7 linked regions of the Homo sapiens genome follow. The protein of the gene in region 7 purifies or fractionates together with the protein of the main gene of each other region. This does not show direct contact. Each region holds a gene or a part of one and is shown on either strand. Other genes may lie near its edges.

Region 1 (3,500 bases), on a different chromosome or scaffold from region 7:
GGTTAGAAATAGTTATGAGAATCAAAGAGCTGAACAAGTGACTAAGGCTTATGCTATTTTAATGCTCGAAATAGGAACTGTTTTTAGCCTGTAGATATTTTGACTATTTGGAGTAAACACTGATATAAATCTAACTGCAAGTTTAATTTGAATATATACTAGGGAAATACATTTAAGAACCATACAAATTGATTTTTCTTGATAAAAGGAGAAAATGGCTGGTATAGGGTAAAGTTTATCTTCCTTTAACAACAGGTCCGCAATGAAAAGCTAAATGCTACTCCAAGGGAAGAGACAGGAAGAGGATGCAGTCTAGTTCCTTCTGATATGCCGTGAAGTTGCAAAGTTTACCAAGCAGTGTGTACATAGGAGCAAAATCTCAGAAGGAACCACTTTGACCCGGGGAAGTGTTTCTAAGATAGTCTGTCATCAGCACATTTGTTTACTCTCTGGAGTTTCCTTTCCAAAAATATAAATAAAAAATATTGCTCATAAATCCCTTGCCTCTTTGCCCATGCAGTACACCAGTGTTTCTCAACCTTTTTCTTACATTATTGATTCCCTAAGAAGTCGATTACAGACTCTTTTTCCCCAATCACCTCCCTCCCCTGAAATTTTTACATCACCCATGTGGTGTGTAGCCATTTAGGTATGGTGACCTCTGGAGGGCCATTATAATATCTAAGTTTTCTTCACCCTTCCCCCAAGAAGTGATTGCTCCATTAAAAAAAAAAAAAAAAAAAAAAAAAAGGCCAGGCGCGGTGCTCACGCCTGTAATCCCAGCATTTTGGGAGGCCGAGGCGGGCGGATCACGAGGTCAGGAGATCGAGGCCATCCTGGCTAACACGGTGAAACCCCGTCTCTACTAAAAATACAAAAAATTAGCCGGGCGAGGTGGTGGGTGCCTGTAGTCCCAGCTACTCGGGAGGCTGAGGCAGGAGAATGGCGTGAACCCCTGGGGGCGGAGCCTGCAGTGAGCCAAAATCGCGCCACTGCACTCCAGCCTGGGCGACAGTGAGACTCCGTCTCAAACAACAACAACAACAACAACAACATGGAGTACACTAAATCCATTCTATCTGAAAGGCGAACAAGAATATTATAAACCTCTCATGGTGTTTTGAAGATACAAAAAAATTTCTTGAGGTGGGGGATGGTGTTAGGGAAGGAAAGAAAGAATAAATTATATGGTTGGTTGAAGTTAAAATGAAAACAATGTAGTAAATGAAATTAATTATAAGCATCAAAGAATTTAACCCTTACAAAGAAAAATTTCCAGCAAAATCCTTATCATACTATTAAACTGGATTTTTATCTCCATTGAAGCCAGTTTTCAATTTTTTTTCAAACTGTACATCTCAGGAGAACACATAATGACTACTTTTTTTTTTTTTTTTTTTTTTTGAGATAGATTTTCACTCTGTTGCCCAGGCTGGAGTGCAATGGCGCGATCTCGGCTCACTGCAACCTCCACCTCCCGGGTCCAAGTGATTCTTCGGCCTCAGCCTCCTGAGTAGCTAGGATTACAGGCTTGCACCACCACACAGGCTAATTTTGTATTTTTAGTAGAGATGGGGTTTTACCATGTTGGTCAGGCAGCTCTTGAACTCGTGACCTCAGATGATCCGCCCGCCTTGGCCTCCCAAAGTGGTGGGATTACAGGCGTGAGCCACCTCCCCTGGCCCATAATGACTAGTTGTTAAAAGGAATTATAAACACAAAGTATAAAGTACGGAATGAATACAAAGTCTTGATTATTGAATTTGTTTCCTGGTATTGATTTTTGCCTTTTAAAAAATGTACATTTCTTGACAGCTGTTACAGAAAGATAGCTTAAAGGGGGAAAAACTTGTTGAATTTACATTGACTTTAGATAAATGAAAAACTTAGGCATGAAGGTCTAAAATACGAAACAGAGGTTTTCTAAATGAAATAAAACTATAAAATTATTTAGTTTATAGAAAAGAGAAAATATTCTTAAATATTCATATATGTCCAAAAGAAATGAAAATAGGATCCTGAAGAAATACTTACACACCCATGTTCACTGCAGCATTATTCACAATAGCTAAAAGGTGGAAGCAATCTGTCTGTCTACAGATAGACTTTAAAATATGATATATACATGCAATAGAATGTTTCAACCTTAAAAAAGAAAATCCTTCTTTGCTACAACATGGATGAACCTTAAGGACATTACGCTAAGTGAACTAAGTCAGTCCCAAAAGGACAAATACTGTATGACTTCATTTATATGAGGTAATTTAAAGTAGTCAGACTCATAGAAACAGAAGTAGAACGGTGGTCTCCAGGGGTCAGGGGATAGGGAAATATGGAGTTGTTATTCAGGAGGTAAAGTGTTTTTGTTCTGCAAGATGAAAAAGTTCTAGAGATTCGTGGCACAACAATGTGCATATAGTTAACACTACTGTACTGTATACTTCAAAATGGTTAAGATGATAAATTTTGTTATGTGTTTTTTTACCACAATAAAAATATACTCACAGTCAAACCAACAGTAGTTATATATCAAGAATGTAACTCCTCCAGTTACTTGGCATATAGACATACAAAAAAAAACTACGGCAAACAAACTCTCAACAAATCTGGATATAAAATAGGCTTAAATATAGCAATTATATACCTATATCACCACTACTAATGCAATTAATAGCATTCAGTATGCATTTATAGGTCCATAATCCCTTATCTAAAACCCTTGGGCAGTTCTATTTCAGAATGCAGAATTCTTTGGATTTTAGAAAAGTAATACAGCACATATACTTATGATTACATAACTCCCATGGCAAAGTCTGAGGGAATACCTTGTCATCAAGTACACGAATATTTCTATAGCAAAAAGCATAAATAGTCACACTAGGTAGGATAATTAAAAACTATAAATAGCCTCACGTCAGTTCAGGTCAGGTCAGGTTTTGCTGCCAATATCTTTTTAGATTTTGGGAATCCAGATAAAGGTATTATGGATCATTATTTCATTTCAAAAATCTTTTATATATATATATTATTATACTTTAAGTTCTAGGGTACATGTGCACAACGTGCAGGTTTGTTACATATGTATACATGTGCCATGCTGGTGTGCTGCACCCATTAACTCGTCATTTACATTAGGTATACCTCCTAATGCTATCCCTCCTCCCTCCCCCCACCCCAAAACAGGCCCCGGTGTGTGATGTCCCCCTTCCTGTGTCCAAGTGTTCTCATTGTTCAATTCCCACCCAAAAATCTTTCAACATTCTTAAGTTAGCAAATATTAATTAGGTCTTCATTTCTCACTATCTCACTAACTGTAGTAATTCCAGGTAGACAAAAACATAGCTAATTCAAAGCTGCAACACACCAGCATAAAGAACACCCACAGAAGCCATTAGTTCATAAACCAAAGATCCCATACAAATTTTTACATGACCTTATCCTAGTCTCTTTAACCTCAACTTTGTTTATTTGTATCTAATCTCCACCTGCACCATCCCAAT
Region 2 (3,500 bases), on a different chromosome or scaffold from region 7:
CCTCAGCCTCCCAAAGTGTTGGGATTACAGGCGTGAGCCACTGCGCCCAGCCTCCACTTCTTTTATACCAAAGCACTTACCATTTTCTAGCATCCTATGTGACTCACTTATGTTTACTGCTTATTGTCTACATCCTCCAGCTAGTATATAGGTTCCATAAGTACAGGGTTTATTGTCTGTTTTGTTCACCTAGTAGATGCTTAATAAATATTTACAGGCTGAATCAACGTCATAAAACATGGCAAGCACAGTCCATGGAAGATACCAGTACTGGAGGGGCTCCCACTACACTGTGCCTTGTAGGCTCTGTACCTGGTTCAATTTCTTGAACTCCACCACTTGGAAGAAGACGTGCTCAAGGATATGTTTGGCATCCTGTTGGTCCTTTGGTAGTTTACTGGTTACTCCAAGAATATCACCACACTTCCTGACATAAAATTCCAGGTCTTCTTCAGTACCTAAGACAGTTGGAGTAGTAGTTAGATTAATTCTTAACTTCTGCCCTTCCCAAAGTACAGACTTAGTGTGTTTCAGGTATGCCCTGTCATGTTTCCACATTTCCTAAGATCACTCACCTCTTCCTAAAGTAATGTGACTACAGGATTTCAACACTGAAAAACCCTAGAGCTCTCTAATGTGCTGCTTTTATAATAAAAGCACTCCTAATCAGAATAAAACTGGACTGGTACTGGCTTTCCTATTCCTCAGATCTAGTATTCCTACATTAGAAAGAACAGGTGCAACAGTAGGAAATCAAATTATCATTCCCTGAATGCAACAAAGATGACTATAGAGAAGCATATGGGTAATTAAAAATAGCATTTACTAAAACAATATTGTATTGGCTGGGCGTGGTGGCTCATGCCTGTAATCCCAGCAATTTGGAAGGCTGAAGCAGGTAGATCACTTGAGGTCAGGTGTTCAAGATCAGCCTGGCCAACATGGCAAAACCCCATCTCTACTAAAAATACAAAAATTAGCCAGATGTGGTGATGCAGGCCTGTAATCCCAGCTACTCGGGAGGCTGAGGCAGGAGAATCACCTCAACTGGGGAGATGGAGGTTGCAGTGAACAGAGATTGCGCCACTGCACTCCACCCCGGGCAACAGAACAGACTCCATCTCAAACAAAACAAAACAAAACAGCCGAGCGTGAAGGCTCACGCCTGTAATCCCAGCACTTTGGGAGGCCAAGGTGAGCGGATCACGAGGTCAGGAGTTCGAGACCAGCCTGGCCAGCATGGTGAAACCCTGTCTCTACTAAAAATACAAAAAAATTAGCCGGGCATGGTGGTGCGCACCTGTAATCCCAGCTACTCGGGAGGCTGAGGTAGGAGAATTGCTTAACCCTGGGAGGCGGAGGTTGCAGTGAGCTGAGATCACGCCATTGCACTCCAGCCTGGGGGACGTGGTGGCTCACATCTGTAATCCCAGCACTTTGGGAGGCTGAGGCAGGTGGATCATCTGAGGCCGGGAGTTCGAGACCAGCCTGACCAACATGGAGAAACCCTATCTCTACTAAAAATACAAAATTAGCCGGGCGTGGTGGTGCATGCCTATAATCCCAGCTACTCAGGAAGGCTGAGGCAGGAGAATCGCTTGAACCCGGGAGGCAGAGGTTGCAGTGAGCTGAGGCTGTGGTGAGCCAAGATCGTGCCACTGCACTCCAGCCTGGGCAACAAGAGCAAAATTAGGTCTCAAAACAAAACAAAACAAAACAAAACCCCAAAAAACAAACAATATTATAGAAAGAAAATTAAAGAAAAAAATCACCCATAATTCCACCAACAACATAGCTCTGTGAAGCCATCCTCTGGAGCCCTACATGTAGGATAGACAGCCATTACTGCCCTTCTCACATTATACTGTAATTTCTTTCTTCCTTTTTTTTTTTTTTTTTTTTTTTTGAGACAAGGTTTGGCTCTATCACCCAGGCTGGAGTGCAGTGGCATGATTTCAGCTCACTGCAACTTCTGCCTCCTGGGCTCAAACCATCCTCCCACCTCAGCCTCCCAAGTAGCTTGGACTACAGGTGTGTACCACCACGCCTGGCTGATTTTTTGTATTTGAGACGGGGTTTCACCATGTCGCCCAAGCTGGTCTCGAACTCGTGAGCTCCAGCAATCCACCTGCTTTGGCCTCCCAAAGTGCTGGGCTTATAGGCATGAGCCACTGAGCCCAGCTGTAATTAATTTATTCTCCCTCTGATTTGCATTTTAAGTTTTGATAGAAATGTATGTTTTTTACTAAGACATTCAAACCCACAGCTGTATCAATGTTTCATCCTAGTTCTACTGCCACCAACTACCTAGAATTATTATTGCTATGTATGCTTCTGTGTGTAAATGTAAGTTTTCACAAAAATGGGATCAAACTAGAATAGTTTTCTAAGTTGACTTCATCATTTAATGATGTATTATGGACATTCCGAATCAAAGTTTATGCCCTGCATTTTTTTTATTTTCTTTTTTGTTTTTTCAGATGGAGTCCCACTCTGTCACCCAGACTGGAGTACAGTGGCGTGATCTTGGCTTACTGCAACCTCCACCTCCCGAATTCAAGCAATTCTCCTGCCTCAGCCTCCCAAGCAGCTGGGATTACAGGCACCTGCCACCATGCCTGGCTAATTTTTTATTTTTATTTTTAGTAGAGACAGGGTTTTACCATCTTGGCCAGGCTGGTCTCAAACTCCTGACCTTGTGATCCACCTGCCTCGGCCTCCCAAAGTGCTGGGATTACAGGCATGAGCCACTGCGCCTGGCCTTTTCTTTTCTGAGACAGGGTCTCGCTCTGTCAACCAGGTTAGAGGACAGTGGCACAATCTTAGCTCACTGCAGCCTTGACTTCCTAGGCTCAAGCAATCCTCCCACCTGGGCCTCCTGAGTAGCTGGTACTACAGGAGTGAGCCACCATGCCCGGCTAATTTTGTTTATTCTTCTATAGAGAAGAGGTCTCACAGTGTTGCCCAGGCTGGTCTCAAGTGATCCTCTTGCCTCAGCCTCCTAAAGTGCTGGGATTATAGGTGTGAGCCATCGCACCCAGGCTACATTTTTCTTTTAACAGGTATGTAATATTCTATTTTGTTTCTATTTATTTATTTTTCAGAAACAGGGTCCTTTGTCACCCAGGCTGGAGTGCAAGGTGTATCATAGCTCACTGCAGCCTCCAACTCTTGGGCCCAAGTGATCCTCCCACCTCAGCCTTCCAAGTAGCTAGGAATATAGAAATGCGTCACCGCACCTGGCTACTTAAAAAAATTTTTTTTTTTAGATGGAGTTTCGCTCTTGTTGCCCAGGCTGGAGTGCAATGACACGATCTCGGCTCACCGCAACTTCCAACTCCTGGGTTCAAGCGATTCTCCTGCCTCAGCCTCCCCAGTAGCTGGGATTACAGGCATGCGCCACCACACCCAGCTAATTTTGTATTTTTAGTAGAGAAGGGGTTTCTCCATGTTGGTCAGGCTGGTCTTGAACTCCCAACCTCAGGTGATCTGCCCACCTT
Region 3 (3,500 bases), on a different chromosome or scaffold from region 7:
AGAGACAAAGAGAAATCACTGAATTAAAAGTAAAAGAATTTGAAAATATCAAATTACAGTAAGTCTTCGAAATGTATTGTAAAAATAGGCAAATGATAAGTGATATAATGAAGATAAACATAAGTGTTTGCTATGCCAGGCACTGTTCTAAGACTTTTAAGTATATTGTCTCATTTTTATCCTCAGGACTGCTGGTTACATATGTTATCATTTTCCCCATTTTAAAGAGAGGATATGGCCTCAGGAATGCTTAATAGCATGTCTGGGGGTAGATGGGAAAGCCATAATTTGAAACTAGTCAGTCTGACTCAAAAGCCAATACAAATTCTTTTCCAGAATCTCATTTTTACCTTCTTTGAGCCTCAGTTTCATCTTATTTATTTATTTTTATTTTTGAGACAAGGTCTGGCTCTATTTCCTAGGCTGGAGTGCAGTGACATAATCTCAGCTCACTGCAACCTTGACCTTCCAGGCTCAAACCATCTTCCCACCTCAGCCTGCAGAGTAGCTGGCACTACAGGCAGGTGCCACCACACCTGGGTAGTTTTTTTGTATTTTTGTAGAGACAAGGTTTCTCCATGTTGCCCAGGCTGGTCTTGAACTCGTGAGCTCAAGTGATCCGCCCACTTCGGCCTCCCAAAGTGCTGGGATTACAGGCCTGAGCCATTGCACCCAGCCTCATCATCTTTAAAATGGAAATAATAATACTTACCCTGGCCCTTTCAGGGTGGTTATATGAAGGTCAAATTATACCGTGTATGAAAGTAATTTGAAAACTGTAAAATAACATACAGATAGAAAACTTTTGATTACACACTTATAAGAGTGTCTGTCATATAATAGAGATTCTAAACATTGTTCAACCACTTTATCAGAACGTAGATTTTAAACTCAAAATAGGTTTATAGTTAGGTAGTTTCTAATCATTATAATATTATCTCTATGGGCCTAAATTTTATTATCTGAAAAAACATGAGAAAATTGAACTGCTTGACTTATAATTCCATTTCAGCTCTCAAGCCCCTGCTAGAGTCTTTGATTCTTTACTCACTTATTCAAATGCCTCTGACAGAATTAACACTATTTTTGCTTTGCTAAGGAGCTGCCACTGTTAAGAAATTACTCTCTAAAAGAAAGAAAATTGGCAACAGCATATGTGTATTTTCAGTCTCTTTTCCTCACTCTATTAAATTTTGTACAAGAGATGTTATTTTTGGTCTAGTAAATTTCTGTCATGTTTTGGAGTATAAAATTACTTGTGCTTTTGCATCTAATTTGTGGGTGTAGAAAATCATAATCTTTTGAAATACCTTATATAATACATTTTTTTGCCACAGGAAATACTTGAAGTTATTGTTGTGTACCTTACGTCATTTTAGTCCAAAATTATACTTGTGTTCTCTGTGTGCATATTTTGATATGTATTAGGAGATTATGGATCTGTGTGATTTCTTAAGTAAATCCTGATATTTTCACAATTTGATGATGACTCTTTAAAGTTAGACTTAAGTTTTGCCAAAAGCAAGAAGCCTCAAAGAGTAACATTTGTTCATGTCTTAACACTATCTCCCTCTTATTGGTCAGAATCTCAGTATGGATGCAGTGTCCATATGCACAACAATATATTAATTCAGTTTAACAGACTTAATGCTGAATAAGCAATAAGATTAATTGAATTAACTAAATCTTTTGATAGTATCCACTTCCATATATATAGTTATAGATATAATGCTAGTGAATTTGAACCATAAACAAATTAATAATACATGTGATTTCTGTGAAAATTTATATTAGTCTTTTCAATATGTCAATATAGGGCAGTATTTCTCAAATATAGAGGATCAGTTTTTCACCATTGTCCCTCTTGGGGACATTTGGCGATGTCTGGAGACATTTTTGATTGTCATGGCTCGGGGGTGCTACTGGTATCCAGTGGGTAGAATCAAAAGATGCTGCTAAACATCCTATCATGCACAAGGCAGCCCCACCACCAACAAAGAATTATCCAGTCAAAAATGTTACTAGTAGTATGGTTAGGAAACTATCATATAGAGGAAGCAATCACATTTTACAAGAGCCATAATATTTAAAATGCCTTTTTGTTCATTCTCTGTATATTTGACTAGAGTCACAAAATAACTTGATAAGATTGTTGCCAAAAATATTAGAAACTAGAAGAAAAATGTGTTGTTAAGTCTAAGAGTAGTTAAATGAAATAAAGAATTATTCTTCTTTGGATTTGGATGCCTGCATCAAGATTTAGATTGTAAGGATACTTAGGACTGAACATTTGCTCTATATGAAATTTGTATTAATCAAGGTATGAATTGCAGCAACCACTCTATTAATTACATATGTTTGGCCAGGTGTGGTGGCTCACACCTGTAATCCCAGCAATTTGGGATGCCAAAGCGGGCTTATCACCTGAGGTCATGCGTTCAAACTGGCCTGGCCAACATGGTGAAACCCCATCTCTACTAAAAATACAAAAATTAGCTGGGCCTGATGGTGCACGCCCGTAGTCCCAGCTACTCAGGAAGTTGAGGCAAAAAAATCACTTGAATCTGGGAGGCAGAGGTTGCAGTCAGCCGAGATTGCGCTGCTGCACTCCAGCCTGGGTGACAGAGTGAGACTGGGTCTCAAAAAAATTAAAAATTAAAAAACACACACACACATATGTTTATTTACATCAGGCTTCAAGAAAACCATGAAGATGAAGTGAAAAAAGTAAAAGCGGAAGTAGAGGATTTAAAGTATCTTCTGGACCAGTCACAAAAGGAGTCACAGTGTTTAAAATCTGAACTTCAGGCTCAAAAAGAAGCAAATTCAAGAGCTCCAACAACTACAATGAGAAATCTAGTAGAACGGCTAAAGAGCCAATTAGCCTTGAAGGAGAAACAACAGAAAGTAAGTAACAACAGAAAATTATCAACATTTAGGAAAAATATGTGGTAGATTGCTTTTAGAGAAGATTTGTAAATTTATAAAAGATGGTAGTATAAATCTCCGTGTTGTAATAAAAAGTATGAGCTTTATCTTATGCTGTTAAACAAGGTATTTTAGACAATGCTGTTTTTGTGGGCAGATATAGTCCAATTTATCTTTTTATGTTTTCGTCAATCTGATTTGTGAATTATCTATATGAAGTTAGGAAAAATCTTAATGTACATTACAAAAATATAATATATATTACATTGTATTTTCTTTTTTTCTACTGGAATTTTATGCTACTGAGGCTATTTTTAACAAATGAACAATTTTGAACAATTTGAGGGATTGAGGGAAGTATGATAATGACAAAAAGGGATGAAAAAAGGGGGTCATAGAGATGTTTTTGTGAGAAGGAGTTGGTCAGTGTATTCTGATTTATTAGGGTTTTTTTTAGTTTATCTCAGATTTGATCTATTTAAATTGTTTTAGAAGATGCTGGTGTTTTTCTGTGCTAGCTATGAAATTTATGGGTAAACTTTAAGCCTTTCCTAGTCCTTTTGTTGTCTACC
Region 4 (3,500 bases), about 30 Mb from region 7:
GGCGAGAGATGGCCGTGGGTCCTGTGGCACCCAGCCTGGTCCCCACCCCGAGGAATCCAGAGGGCCCAGGGCAGGGAGGGCGCAGCAGCGGAGATGGGAAAGGCCCACCCACAGCCACGCCCCACTGCCGGGAGGAGCGCTGGGCCGCCCACCCCACAGCCTGCGTACCTGACGGGCCCAGGCTCCCCTTCGATGCAGCTCACCACCTGGAACTTCTCCAGGTCCCAGAAGCGGATTGTCCTGCAAAGGCAGCCAAGCTGTGCTGCGAAGCCTATCCCTCATCCTGGCCTCCACATGTCCCTGGGAAGCCAGCTTTTCTCTAGAAACCTCTCCCCCAGGGCAGGGCCACCAGGAGCAACATCTGGGGCAGAGCTGGCCCTGACTTTGCAAGGGGGAGGCTCGGCCCGATGGCCCTGGCCCCAGGGTTGGCCCCAACAGCCACGAGCCTCCCTGCCCTATGGGGTCCCACTAGATGCCTTGGGTCCCAACCTGCCCATGAAGCCACAGACCTGGGACACTGGGGCCAGGGAACCAGAGCCAGGGGAGATGGACCAGGGTCCAGTCCTGGCTCGGCTGAAATCCAATTCAGTCCACACAGGATCATCAGACGTATGACACCCCAGACAGCGACAGACCGGCAGTAGAGACACGCACAGAGGACAAGGCGGTGAAGGACAGCAGTCACAAGCAACTCGCCTCGCTCCTCCTCCTCACCTGTCAGAGCTGCCGGAGGCCAGGAGGTACTCGTTGGGGTGAAACTCGACCACGTTGACAGGCCCCGTGTGACCAGGGAACTCAGACATCATCTTGCCGGCAGTGAGATCCCAGAGCTGGAGGCAGGGCAGGGAGGAGGTCAGGGTGACCAGGCATCTTGGCTGCCCACCCTCCCTCTAATCCAGGCCAAGCTCTTTATCCACAAGCTACCTTCCACTCGGGATAGGCTTGGGACATGTGAGCCCGATCAGGAGGGAGGTGAGGACTCAGCCTGCTGTGATCAGCAGACCCCAGCCCCCAGCCCCTGGGCCCAGGTCAGGCCGGGAGCTACCTTCACGGTGTGGTCATCTGCGGCCGACGCCAACCACTTCCCATCGGGGCTGAACCGGAGACACCGCACGGCCTGGCTGTGCCCCTGAGGGAGGACACGGCATGAGCTCACCCTGGGATCCTGGGCCCAACAGACCTCTCCCTGCCTCCTCACTCCTATGGGACCCCTTCCATCTAACAACACTGGTTACCCGCCTGGTTCTGCTTGGAGCAGTTTGATGAACGTGGCTCTAGGGGATTCATGCAGAGCCAGGGGATCCAGGTGGGCCGCCCATGGCGCTCCTGCTCAGCTCCAGGTCTATGTTTTATGTTATCACCCATGTGGGACAGCCGTCCCCTCCACCCCCTGCTGGGGTCTGGGCACCACACCACACTCAATGCCCGCAAGGTGCTCATGGAGTCACCGACAGAGCGCATCCTTACCCTGTATCGGAAGACACAGCCTTTCCTCCTGATGTCCCAGAGCTGTGGGGGAGAGAGAAGCAGAGGGGCAGAGTCAGGAGAGGTCAGAGCCACGACTGGAGGAAGGTGTGCAGTCGTGAGCAGACGGTGGGGCCCAGCCTTCTCTAGGTCGTTACTCCCCACGGAGACAAGGACAGAAACTGCTCACTAAAGCTGGCATTCTGAGCAGAAGCATCTGGCAGATAGATGCCTGCCACCCGCTTTCCCTAGGATGGTGTGGATGTGGCTGCAGAAAGGGAAGAGGTCCCCTCAGCAGGCATCCAGCACTGAGGGCCGGGCCGGGCTGGTCCTGCCACAGGCCCAGCAGGAGACACGGGGCACGGACCGGCCTCTCACCTTGATGTTTGTGTCCTGGGAACCAGAGGCTACAAACTCGCCGTACGGGTGGAAATCCAGGCTGCAGATGTTGGCTTTGTGTCCCATGAGTGTGCGAAGAACTAACAAGAAGGAAAGCAGAGACAGTGGCTAAGAGGCAAATGAGAAGGCTGGCAGAGGAAGGGCTGCTGTGGGCATTTGTGTGTGCGCTTTTGGATTAGCTGCACAGAAAAATAGAACAATAACACACATTTTTAAAACAGTAGGAAACAATCAAGGGTCCCACCACCCTAACAACGAATTTTCTTTTCTTCCTTTTTTTTGAAAAGGAGTCTTGCTCTGTCGCCCAGGCTGGAATGCAATGGCGTGATCTCGGCTCACTGCAACCTCTGCCTCCCGGGTTCAAGCAATTCTCCTGCCTCAGCCTCCCAGGTAGCTGGGATTACAAGCATGTGCCACCACACCCGGCTAATTTTTTTATATTTTTGGTAGAGATAGGTTTTCACCACGTTGGCTGGGCTGGCCTCCTGACCTCAAGTGATCCACCCGCCTTGGCCTCCCAAAGCGCTGGTATTACAGGTGTGAGCCACTGCGTCCTGCCAACAACTAATTTTCCCACATTTCTCTTGAGAGGTGACAGCCCTATGTTACCTCAAGTCTGCAGAAATTGTACCACACTCTCCCCACAGACTGTGCTCCAGCGGAAGCAGAACCAGGGAACCACCACACTCAGTTCAGGCCCCATGGGTGTGGAGCTTATGGTTTGCAGGGCACTGAACCCCACCCAAGACAGTGCAAGGAGAGAGACAGACCAGGAGAGGTTCAAGCTGGGAGAGAAGCTGCTTGGTTGGAAAGAGAAATCCAGGAAGGCTTTATGGAGGAGGTGGTATTTGAGTAGATGTCAGTGGGTGGAGGATGAGGGATGCTGTTAGGTAGATGGAGGTGATGGGCAAAGGCCCTAAGAAGGGCAAGTGGAGGGCATGGCTGGGGTGGCCCTGGTGCACACACCAGTCTTCTTGGGTGACCTCTGTCCAAGGGATCTTGAGGGTGGCTGTGAGGACACACTGAGGAGCAGTGAGAACTGAGAGGACACAGGGAGGACACGCGAGGACCAAAGAACTCCTGGGGTGGGGCCTGATCGCCTCCCACTGCCCTAGGAACCACATCTCCTATCCTTTCCTTGAAGGTTTTGCAGGCATCTCCATGGCCAGGAGCGGCCCAGCCTGGAGGCAAACCTTGTGTGTTTCAGGGTGTCCTCCAGTACCACTCAGATTTGTCTCATGTTTCCTGCTTTTGGAAAGATTCATAATTCACTATCTGAATGAAACTGACCATCCCAAGTGCCAGGGTCAGGAAATGTGGGAGTCCAGCCATTCTTAGTTTTGAGCCAAGGTGCAATAGGTCACCTTGTGAGGTAGTGAGCTCTCTGTCAGAGGAGGTATTCAAGATTCCATATATAACACTTTACTGCAGAGTCAAGATCCAAGCACTGGGTGAATTAAATGAACTCTACTGTATGATCTTCTCTACCCCCAAAGTCAGGATGTGGGCTCTGGCATCAGACAATACTGGGATCAGCCTTGGCTCCGCTCCTCACTGGTGGTGTGACCCTGGCCAATCACTTACTGTCTTTGGGCCTCATGTTGGGTCACAGAATGGAGTAAACATACATAAAGTGC
Region 5 (3,500 bases), on a different chromosome or scaffold from region 7:
CTGGATCCCTTCCCGACCTCAGTGTCCTCCTTCCTAGCAGCTGGAGACAAGATGATTTCCAACATCTTCGCGGGATGCTTTACAATTTGACATCCCCCAAAGAATGCGTGTCTGGGTGTCTGGGAAAACGTCCCCAACACACATGGTGGGTCCAGAAAGAATTCACACATTGAGAAAACAGTTTGAAACCAACAGGACTTCCTGGCAAACCCTAAATTTACCTGAAAATTTAATTAAACAATAATTACAGTAAACTCAGGTCTTATTGTACTTATCTGCTGATGCCTAAAAGCCCTTGAAAGCAGCCCTAATCCTTAATAACTGAGCAATGTCCATGCTCCTAAAGACACCACATGCACAACTCAGACTGCGCATAAACACCGCTTGCAATGCTAAGGTGGAGGCTGCTCCAAAGCCTTCAGAGCAATACTGAGAGTGACACAAATGACACAAACGACACGCACGGGAGAAGCAACACATCTTAAAACACCTGCAAGACAAGGACAAGAGCAACTTGGCAAATCAGCTCAAACTCTGAAAAACGTTGATTTCTCTACATGCCTGGTGGGGAATCATTAAACCCTAAAAAGAGCAAGCATTTAATATTTTCCTGACATCCCCCTTCAAATTATCTTCTACCACTCCCAGATCAAAATTCCATAAAGGGAGACCTCAGAAACCACCATCAATTGATCAATTCCATCCAGTGTTTCATGATCTGAAAAGCCCATCACCCCTTGCCTGGATGCTCAATCCATTCCACCACCAAATATTTACTGCAAAGCTGCTATGTGTCAGACACTCTATCAGACTGGGCATCCAACAGTGAACATGAGTGAAATCTCTAGCTTTTGCTCTTAGGGAGCTTATAATCCAGCAGAATTCTCCCTGGACATGAAGTAGGAAATGGTTAAAAACTCACTGAATAATGCCTTAATAAATGATTGGCTGAACAATAAACTTCTATTAGGGGATGAACAAAAAAACCCAAAACACAACTGACAAGAAATAAGTATCTCTTTGGGTTTCTATTGAGAATCCAAGATTGTCATCATTTTAAATAGGCATAAAAGAAAACCAGTTTCCTAGTCATATTGTAAGAAAGGTAAAAATCATGTTTGAGACCACCACAAACTCTTGCTAAGCAAAAGGCGAGGTTCTCAGCAAGACTTTACCTTTTTCTCAGGTTTGTCATGCTCTCTGTTCTTCTCCCTGTCCAGGTCCCAGGAGTGCTCCCCGTTTTTCACTCTCCGTCTGTCCCTGTCCTTCCCTTTGTCCCGGTCGCGCTCTCGGTCCCTGTCTCTCAGTCTCTCCTTCTCTTTCCCCCCCTCACTCTTTCTCTCTGTCTCCTTCTTGCGCTCGGAGTCTCTGTCCCGCTCCCTGTTGCCTCTGTCTTTCTGTCGCTCGTTGTCTGGCCTGGCCCGGGCTTTGGCTCTCTCTCTCTCCCCTTCTCTGTGTCTGTTTCCGCCATTCTCCTTGGCCTTCTCCTTGTCCTTGTCCTTTTCTCTTGGCTTGCGGTCTTCTTTCAATTCTTCCTTCTGTTTTCGATCTCTGCTTGTACTTCTCTCTTTTATTTCAGCGTCTCCTCTATCCTACGAAATAAAAATAAAATCATTTATGAATATTTTTACCTAAACTACAAAAAGACTCACTATTTCATTTTCAAAGATGTGCGACTTGGAATTCACCTCTGTATTTTTGTGAACTCTGGACTCTTCTTCTCGCACATTCTTATTATCCAATTCCTGAGATCTTGAGGTCAGTGAGGCCCGGCCTTTCACTTCTCCCTTCTCTCCAGCTAAAACCCTCCGCACCGCATCGTCACTAGAGAGCTTGTCGTCCAAATGGAAGGAAATGAGGTGTTAGGTGAAATGAGATCCGCACACGTAACAAATAGAACATCGCCATTCAAAGATAGCTCATGAGACAGATTCTCTGTCTACAATGAAATTCAAAGGATAAAATATTTTTTGAACATGTTATTATCACATACAAAGCACAGCATATCTTGATAACTATTACTTTCAGCACTTTGGTCACTAACAGTAGCGTCCACCCAAGCTAAATGAATCCTGGTTCAAGTCTACCCAAGCTGTCAAATGTGAATGTGTGTGTTCAAGGTTAATAAAGCTGACCCATGCAACTCTACTACAAATACCTTAAACTTCTAATGGGATCATAGAATCCCAGCCATAAGTGCCTTAAGATTTTATCTAACCACCTCACACCCATTAGGATGGCTGCTCCTAAAAAAAAACACACAAAACCACAAGCATTGGCAAGGATAAGGAGAAATTGAAGCTCTCATGCACTGTTGGTGGAAATGTAAAATGATGCAGCCATTATGGAAAATAGTATAACAGCTCCTCAAAAAATTAGGCACAGATTTACCATATGACCCAATAATTCCCCTTCTGGGTATTTATCCAAAAAAATAGAAAACGGGGTCTTGAAGAGATATTTGTATACCCATGTTCATAGCAGTATTATTCATAATAGCTAAAATGTGGGAGCAAACTGTACCATTGACAGTTGAGTGGATAAACAAAATATGGTATATCCATTACAATGGAATATTATTCAGCCCTAAAAAGCGATGAAATTCTGATACATGCCACAACATGGATAAACCTTGAGAACATTATATTAAGTGAAATAAGCCAGTCAAAAAAATGACAAACACTCTATGACCCCACTTATCCGAGGTCCCTAGAGTAGTCAGATTCATAGAGACAGAAAGTAGAATGGAGGGTGCCAGGGGCTGGGGTACGGGAGAAGAGGAAGTTAGTGTTTCATGGGGACAGAGTCTGTTTTGCAAGGAGAAGAGTCCTGGAGATGGAAGGTGGTGATGGCTGCAGATGAATGAATTTACCAGCACTGAAGTGTACACTTCAACATGGTTAAGATGGCAAATTTTATGTTTTATGGACTTTAACACAATAATAAAATTATGGGTAAAAAACCACTGATCTGATTCAAGCCCCATCAAACGCAAAAATTCCTTCTCCAGCATCCCCGACAGCCATCCAGAGTGCAGGACACCTCAGTCAGGAGTCCCACTGACTCACGCACTCATTCCACAAGCACATGCTGCGTGATTGCCGCGTGCCAGGCTCCATTTAGGCCAAAGACACACCGTGTACTGGGGACACAGATAAACACAACAATTAAACAACAGCCTATAGGAAGCCTACAGGGGCACCTAAGTCAGCCTGGGAGGGAGGAGAGGCCCAGGCTCAAGGAAGCACTCACAGACGCCACATTGTTGCTGGGTGAGGCTGGAGGAGGAAGGCAGCTCAGGTACCAAGAAGCCAGCAGGCACCAGGGCAAGAGGCCGACGGGAGACAGCCGGCCAGGGCCGAATGCAGGGGTGCGTGGCGACTGGAATGGAGGGCTCAGATATGGGAAACGAGAGAAGGATCTGAAGGGAGAGAAGTAGCAGCAGGTCTCTAGGAGCCTCACAAGCTGTGCCATGGAGCTGGCCCAGACCCGAGGCTACT
Region 6 (3,500 bases), on a different chromosome or scaffold from region 7:
ACCTCAGAACATCAGGCATTAGACTCTCCTAAGGAGCACACAATCTAGATCCCTTGCATGCACAGTTCACATTTGGGTTCATGCTCCTATGAAAATCTAATGCTGCCTCTGATCTGACAGGAGGCAGAGCTCAGGTGGTAATACTATCTCACTCCCTGCTCGCCTTCTGCTGTGCAGTCCTGGTTCCTGATAGGCCACTGACTGAACAGTACCTGACTGAGACTGGAGACTCCTGCCCTAGGGTATATCCCCCAGGTGTAAAGGATGGGCTCTTCTTACTGGAATGGGCCTGAGGGGGCAGTTCTTGGGGCAGATATATTAACCTTACAATCTGTTACTCTGATATTTCATTTCTTTTAAAGATGTTCCAGTCTTAAGAGAGTCCACTCTACCACCAAATCCCCTTTCTTAAAAAAGCAAGTATACTTGGGCAGAGACATGCCTAAGGCTGTTGTTCATTAATATCCATATCATCCTAGACTTACCCACTAGGAGTTACACATTGGCTTCAAACAGCGTTTCTCAACTTTGACATTACTAACATTTTGGACTGAAGAAAGTCTTGTTTTAGGCGGTTCCCTGCATATTACAGGATGTCTGGCTAGCAGCATCCCTGGGCTCTACCCACTAGATGCCAGTAGCAGCCCCTTGAAAACAATGAGAAATGTCTCCACACACTGCCCCATGTCCCTGGGGGACAAAATCTACCTCCACCTAGTTGAGAACCACTAGTATGGTATAGTCAAAGGAATCTTACTAATAAGCTAGTGGGGCTGTTGTATCAAATCCATTTTCAGTTGTGGAAACTGAGACTCTAAGAAATAATGATACAGGTTATAAATGGTAGAGCTAGCATTTGTACTCAATGTGATTCAACTGCAAAATCATGTGTTCTTTCAACTAAGAAACAGTTCTTTCTTCCTTGGAGCAGGGTTAGTGAACAATAATCTGGGAGAAATAAATACAGGACGATGTGCCTGAAGGAAGTGAGATCCTGGACACTGATGGAGGTGATGGGAGTGAAGACGGTATTGATGAACTTTACCAACTGGTCTTGCAATTATATCTATTATAAAACCAACTCCCCTGCTCTTCTGGCATCCTCCCCTCACTAGAGACAAGAGCCAACTGTGCTTCTAGAAAGAATATTATTCTTTCTTGCACCTTGTCAAAACTTTATCGGTTTCTCTAGTGAAGACCTGGAAAGACTATGTAAAGGATTAGTCTTCAGTGTAAAAATGACTATGGTAGGGGCACCACTACTTCAACATTAGGAATTTGGAAACTTTCCAAAATAAAATTCCTGGATAGCTCTTGGTTATGTTTTAAGAAATCCCTGGTTCTGGGCCAGAATTTAGGTCCTATAACTTAAGGAAAAAAAAAAAAAAAAAACCTGTGTGAAATAAGTCACTTAATGCCTATAGAACTGGTTCCCCATTCCTGTCTAGGTAAAAGGAGAGATGATACATCTCTTCTCTTCTACCTTCATCCCTACCAGAAATGCTTTGGGATAAACTGGAATTGTACTTGTCAAGTAAGTATGTCAGCTATTACATACCAACCCTGATAATTACTAGGATACATCTACGATTTTTGAATTAACTTATTATACACTATGTATAAAATGCAATATTGTTATACTTTTCTGAAAGTGAATCCTTCAAACTTATTTTCAACTGGAAAAAAGAGAAAAATGTAGAACTTGCAGTCCATATGGCTTTTTTTCAAAGCAAATTACTTATGACAATTATGTACAAGGCTGGTTCTTAAATCCACTCTTGGGAACTGAGAGGCAATCAGGACTCAAACATGGGCTCCATGTACTGACGTGGATGACTTGCTGATCAATCAACAGCTCCAAGTGAACAGTGATTAATGAATTTTGTCATCCTAGAGTGAGGACTCTAAGTTGCATAAGGCTTTGTCTCTAGCCCTATATTTTCAATATTTTAAATAAACAATATGGGTGAGAAGAAGAGAGGCATCCCTGAAAGAAGGGATCCTTTTGATAGCATTCCTTATGGGAAACAGTCAGTCTACTAGAGGATACTCCAAGACACAGGAACTCCTGCATTATAAGGAAGCTGATTTCATTTCTGGTTATTTCAGCCAGAACACTTGCCCTTAATATTAAGTAGAAATCATAATTTTATGGAGCCACACAAGGCTTGAGTCCCTTCCAAATGAAAAATATTTTAATTAAAGATTCCCTATCATATCCATTCATTCCAGCACTATTCCAGTCCACCTACATTCCAATCCCAATTTCATTCTCCCCCAAATGTTTTCAAAATACTCTGGTTTATTGTTTATCTTAAAGGGTAGGACCCAAAACTGGACTCATAGTCGAATGAGAAATAACTGAATATGATACATTAATGCTGAAAAGCATTAGTTGCTTTGCATTTCTCTTGAGAATCTCCTTCACCCTTTCATAAAACCAACTGCGGGCCACATTTGGCTTTCACTCATGGCAAAATGCATGCACGGCCAATAAAAAGTATTACATGCCATAATTTGGTTTCACAGCTTGAGTCCCAATTGAAAAGATAAACCCTGGAATTATCTAGAGGTAAACTGGTTTGTAACAGCCTGGTGGCACTATCAAAATGTCACTTAACAGATACTCTGGGATAGATCATTACTACATTTCTGCTTGCTGGCCCACTAGTTTAAGAAACAAACAAACAAAAAAAAAACAGGGAAGAATAGGTAAGAAAATATGTTATGCGTAAATCATCCCATGGGATGGTACCTAACTTCTTCAGGCCACATAGAGCTCTTACTTACAATATTGGCAAAGTAACTAAAAACATTATTGGGTAGAGAAAATTCACCTTTAAAACTGAAGTAGAGACAGAGGTGTAAATTTTCCAATTTTAAGTGCAAAGACAAAGCATTAACAGGTGAATACCTGGGCTCTCTCTCCTTCCTCTCCATCCCCACTGGCATCTATCTCTTCAGATTTAATGCCCTGCCCTCATCTCTCCCCCTTCATGGTATCCACCTTGTGACCCTCCAGGGATAATGGTCCTTAATTCTGTTGAATAATCAAAAGAGAAGATGCTGACTGTGAGATCTGGGGACATATGGTAACAGTAGCACAAGAACAATTATCTTTAAAAAAGAGCTAGGCACGAAGGACCTTAGGAACATTCTTAGAAGTGGCCAGAGATGCTCTATGTCAGGGAAGCAGAAGCGAACCTGAGGACACGCCAGTTTTAGTATCTCACAGTATAATACGTGTAGGAGGGTGAGCAGCACAATCATACTGAATTTGCTTTCACTATAAAAAAGAAAAGAGACATGGAACCAGCTGAAAATTCTGGATGTACTGTGGCAATTTCCAGAACAAACAGGTCTCATTTGGTTGGGAATGCAAATCTTCATTTTGAAGTGCTCCAGCCTCACAAAGCAACTGGGAAGAACAATTACTGGAAAAGGCTGGTTTCCTCAGTTTGAGGGCTGGCCTCAATGGCTATAGTAAAAGCTAACAGTTA
Region 7 (3,500 bases):
CTGGGGAGGAGATGCGGTCGCAGAAGGGCCATAAGGGAGGGGATGTGGAGCTCACTTAGGGCACTGCTCAGACCCCACCTCCCACCCCCAGGAACAGAAGGACTTAGTCCTCTGGTGGCGGGAAGTGCTGACGGCTGGCAGCTCACCACTGAGGCTCTTGACTTGTGACTGCCCTTGGCTGAAGAGAGTCTCCTTGCAAAAAGCCATGTCCGGCTGGGCACAGTGGCTCATGCCTGTAATCTCAGCACTTTGGGAGGCCAAGGTGTGTGGATCACCTGAGGTCAGGAGTTCGAGACCAGCCTGACCAACATGGTGAAACCCTGTCTCTATTAAAATTACAAAAATTAGCCGGGCGTGGTGGTGGGCACCAGTAATCCCAGCTACTTGGGAGGCTGAGGCAGGAGCTCTCTTGAACCTGGGAGGCGGAGGTTGCAGTGAGCTGAGATCATGCCACTGCATTCCAGCCTGAGCGACAGAGTAAAACTGTGTCAAAATAAATAAATACAAATTAAAAAGTAAAATAAAAAGCCATGCCCCTCCCCAGGGGCAGCCCATAGCCAGTGCCATGTTGATACAGATAAAGACATGGCCCCTCACTCAACTCAGGATGACCCCAAAGGGCCATCCCAGGTTCCGAGCTCCCTGTGGAGCAGGCTGAGGCCTTGAAGTGGCTGAACCGCAGACCAGCTTCTCCCTCTGCCCAATCCTGCCTCCTACCCTTCCCTGACAAGAGCACACCCCAGGAAACTCCATCTCAGGGTCTGTGTCTAGGGAACCTAGCCAGCGACAGGTGGTCGTCAGAAGGCAGAGATGGAGCAGGGAGGCATCCTAGGTGGAAGGTGTGGCTTGCACAGGTGCCTGCAGGTGGACTCCAGAGATGGCATGGGGAGGTCCCGGAAGGGCTGACACCAGGATTCGGAGAGGCTCCAGCTTCATTTTGGAGATGAGGATGGGGAGGTGGGGAGGGGATCCTGACAGTGTCACATCTTTTGTCTCAGAAGATAAAGTAGAAGCGGGTCACATTCACAGGGGGCAGGAGAGAGCAGGAAGTGAGGCTGCCAGGAACCTGGTTAGCAGGGTGCAGGAGGGAGGAGATCACAATCAGCAGTGACCTTGGGCTTGAAGATTCCCCAGGACGGGGAGGGGCTGATGTGGACACGCATGGATGAAGAGAGGAACTGGCTGGAAGGATCAATGGAAAAGAAGGGTGAGGAACAGGCCCAGCAGAAAACCCCTGGGATTTGCTCAGAAGTCACAAACTGGCAGCCAGCTGGCCAGATACACAATAAGTGTTTTATTTGGCTCATGTGATATTTTAAAACATGAGAAAATTCGTTACACACATTTGAGAATCTGGAGACTTCACGTAAGACTCTAGATTTCCGACTTCTTCTGAAAAGTCAGAAGACCTGGTACCCTGGGCCTGTGCACCTGCCCCCACCCCCGGGGCAGAGTGGATGCAGGTTTTCTCTGCCTGTGCATCTACTCTTTGGTGGAGTTGGAAGAGACAGCTCGGGGCACTGCACCAACAGATGCCTTGGGTCTCTTCAGGCTCTAATGTCCTCTTGTTCTACACTTTCTGGGTGCCAACTACACCTCCTGGGTCAGGGTCATGGTCACAGCTAACACATAGGGTGTCTGCATGCAAAAATGCCCCTCAGGGAAGGCAAAATGCTAAGAGATGCCCCTCCTCTGGAGTGAGGTGGCCCTGCTAGGGCCAGGGAGCTGAGCGCAGGCTGGTTTCAGCCTCCACTTGCCCCATGGCCTGGTGTCTCTGTACAGTGTCCAACCCACCCGATTGTCCAGCGAAACCCTGTCCCAAGTGGCCACAACTCCCCCTGTCCCTGGAAGGTCCTCCTTCCACCCAACACTGCTCCAGGAGAGCTACTCACAGATTCCGTGGTAGATGCCTGGCTCTGGCGTGGTGACTTGGGGGACAGGGGAACTGGATGGGAGCTCTAGCTCCGGGATCTGCACATGGGTTGGAGAAGCAGAGGAAAAGGGGGTGGTTTTAGTGATACCCACACAGCTAGCTGGCTGGCTGTTTCTGCATTTACCACTGCCCACCCTATGCCCAGGTAAGTCCTTGTGTGTTTTCCTGGATTTTTCTGCCTTTGTGGAAGCTATGGGACCAGTGATATGGGCGGACCCTGACCCTCCAGGGTCTGCATCCTTGTCAGCAGCTCTCACTGGCTGGGGAGGAGCCTGATGCTAACAGCTAAGGTGTTTAAATTTCCTCCAACAGGGAAGGACTCAATAAATGCTTATGTGGTGAGCTAGAGGAAGAAAGAAAGGAAGGAAGGAAAGGAGGAGGAAGGGAAGAAGAGAAGGAAGGGAGAGAGGAAGGAAGGAAGGAAGGAGGAAAGGAAGGAGGGAAGGAGGAAAAGAAGGAAGGAGGGAGGGAGGGAGGGAAGGAAGGAAGGAAGGAAGGGGAAGTGGAAGAATTCAAACCATAGAGAGTGGCTCTTAACTTTGGCTGTTCACTGAAGCAGAATCTCTAGGGGTGGGGCCCAGACATTTTTAAAGATCCACCCAAGTGATTTCCACGGGTAGCCAGGATAAAAAATCCTGGTCTTCAGAGAGTCAACGGTGGGCCACCACACCCTTCTTGGGCCTTACATATAAACTATTTGCTCATTGTCTCTTTGCACCATAAGTGAAGGCGCTGGTCTCTCACGAGACTGAGAGAGTGATCCCCCCAGCCCCTCACAGCGCTGGGCCCATCAGAGTCCCTTACGAGCACCTTTGTCATTTGGAAAACGCTGGGCAAATGGAAGCGCCCAGGGTAGACTCCCACCTGGAGACCCCTGGGTCGAATCAGGAGCACAGGCACGGCTTGTGGCCCAAAAAAGGTTTGAACACATCTGAATTCACTGCCAGCATTTTTAAATGGAGAGGTTTTACAGAAAAATCCAGCTTTCTGGCTTCTCTTGTAAAAATCAGGAGAACTGGCAACAATGGGCTTGCCCCTCTTGGTGGCCGCTTTCCTTAGATGTGGGGAGGGGGAGGGGCACGCACTCCCCAGCTGCCTGTGCCTCCCCATGCCCTGCTCCTGCACCCCATGCTCTGCCTGGCTGCGAGGTACAATCCCCAGGGAACACCATGGGGTCCACACGACATGTTGCTGTCCTGCCTCAGTCATGACCTTCCCACAGCCCAGCCCCATCCCTTGTGGCTTGTGTTGTCCCCATTTCTCCCCTACCCTGTTTAACCATCTCCTCTTTTTCCTATTGGTCCTGACTTGAATTGACCTTGAAGGTCATCTTTCATTTTAAAAGATTTGTTTATCTGGCTAAGTGTGGCGGCTCTTGCCTGTAATCCCAGCACTTTGGGAGGCCAAGGTGGGAGAAGCGCTTGAGTCCAGGAGTTCATGACCAACCTGGGCAACATAGCAAGACCACATCTCTACAAAAAATAAAAAAAAAACTAGCCAGGCATGGTGGCATGCACTGTAGTCTCAGCTACTCAGGAGGCTGAGGTGGTAGGATTGCTTGAGCCCC

The links.
Region 1: the proteins of KATNIP (region 7) and IFT74 purify together in Homo sapiens (tandem affinity purification; one large-scale study listed by IntAct). This does not show direct contact.
Region 2: the proteins of KATNIP (region 7) and IFT52 purify together in Homo sapiens (tandem affinity purification; one large-scale study listed by IntAct). This does not show direct contact.
Region 3: the proteins of KATNIP (region 7) and CEP290 purify together in Homo sapiens (tandem affinity purification; one large-scale study listed by IntAct). This does not show direct contact.
Region 4: the proteins of KATNIP (region 7) and KATNB1 purify together in Homo sapiens (tandem affinity purification; one large-scale study listed by IntAct). This does not show direct contact.
Region 5: the proteins of KATNIP (region 7) and TRAF3IP1 purify together in Homo sapiens (tandem affinity purification; one large-scale study listed by IntAct). This does not show direct contact.
Region 6: the proteins of KATNIP (region 7) and OBI1 purify together in Homo sapiens (tandem affinity purification; one large-scale study listed by IntAct). This does not show direct contact.

The regions. Positions count from the first base shown.
Region 1 is NC_000009.12:27,050,412-27,053,911, reverse strand, and holds part of IFT74 (intraflagellar transport protein 74 homolog), read right to left. Parts: intron 1-3,500. UniProt on the Homo sapiens protein: Component of the intraflagellar transport (IFT) complex B: together with IFT81, forms a tubulin-binding module that specifically mediates transport of tubulin within the cilium. Binds beta-tubulin via its basic region. Required for ciliogenesis.
Region 2 is NC_000020.11:43,639,437-43,642,936, reverse strand, and holds part of IFT52 (intraflagellar transport protein 52 homolog), read right to left. Parts: intron 459-3,500; coding exon 313-458; intron 1-312. UniProt on the Homo sapiens protein: Involved in ciliogenesis as part of a complex involved in intraflagellar transport (IFT), the bi-directional movement of particles required for the assembly, maintenance and functioning of primary cilia. Required for the anterograde transport of IFT88.
Region 3 is NC_000012.12:88,079,589-88,083,088, reverse strand, and holds part of CEP290 (centrosomal protein of 290 kDa), read left to right. Parts: coding exon 1-58; intron 59-712; exon of another isoform or gene 713-776; intron 777-2,693; coding exon 2,694-2,907; intron 2,908-3,500. UniProt on the Homo sapiens protein: Involved in early and late steps in cilia formation. Its association with CCP110 is required for inhibition of primary cilia formation by CCP110.
Region 4 is NC_000016.10:57,749,270-57,752,769, reverse strand, and holds part of KATNB1 (katanin p80 WD40 repeat-containing subunit B1), read right to left. Parts: intron 1,944-3,500; coding exon 1,843-1,943; intron 1,510-1,842; coding exon 1,468-1,509; intron 1,130-1,467; coding exon 1,046-1,129; intron 831-1,045; coding exon 715-830; intron 241-714; coding exon 169-240; intron 1-168.
Region 5 is NC_000002.12:238,327,018-238,330,517, reverse strand, and holds part of TRAF3IP1 (TRAF3-interacting protein 1), read right to left. Parts: intron 1,833-3,500; coding exon 1,689-1,832; intron 1,593-1,688; coding exon 1,176-1,592; intron 1-1,175.
Region 6 is NC_000013.11:78,652,656-78,656,155, forward strand, and holds part of OBI1 (ORC ubiquitin ligase 1), read right to left. Parts: intron 1-3,500. UniProt on the Homo sapiens protein: E3 ubiquitin ligase essential for DNA replication origin activation during S phase.
Region 7 is NC_000016.10:27,752,644-27,756,143, reverse strand, and holds part of KATNIP (katanin-interacting protein), read right to left. Parts: intron 1,972-3,500; coding exon 1,893-1,971; intron 1-1,892. UniProt on the Homo sapiens protein: May influence the stability of microtubules (MT), possibly through interaction with the MT-severing katanin complex.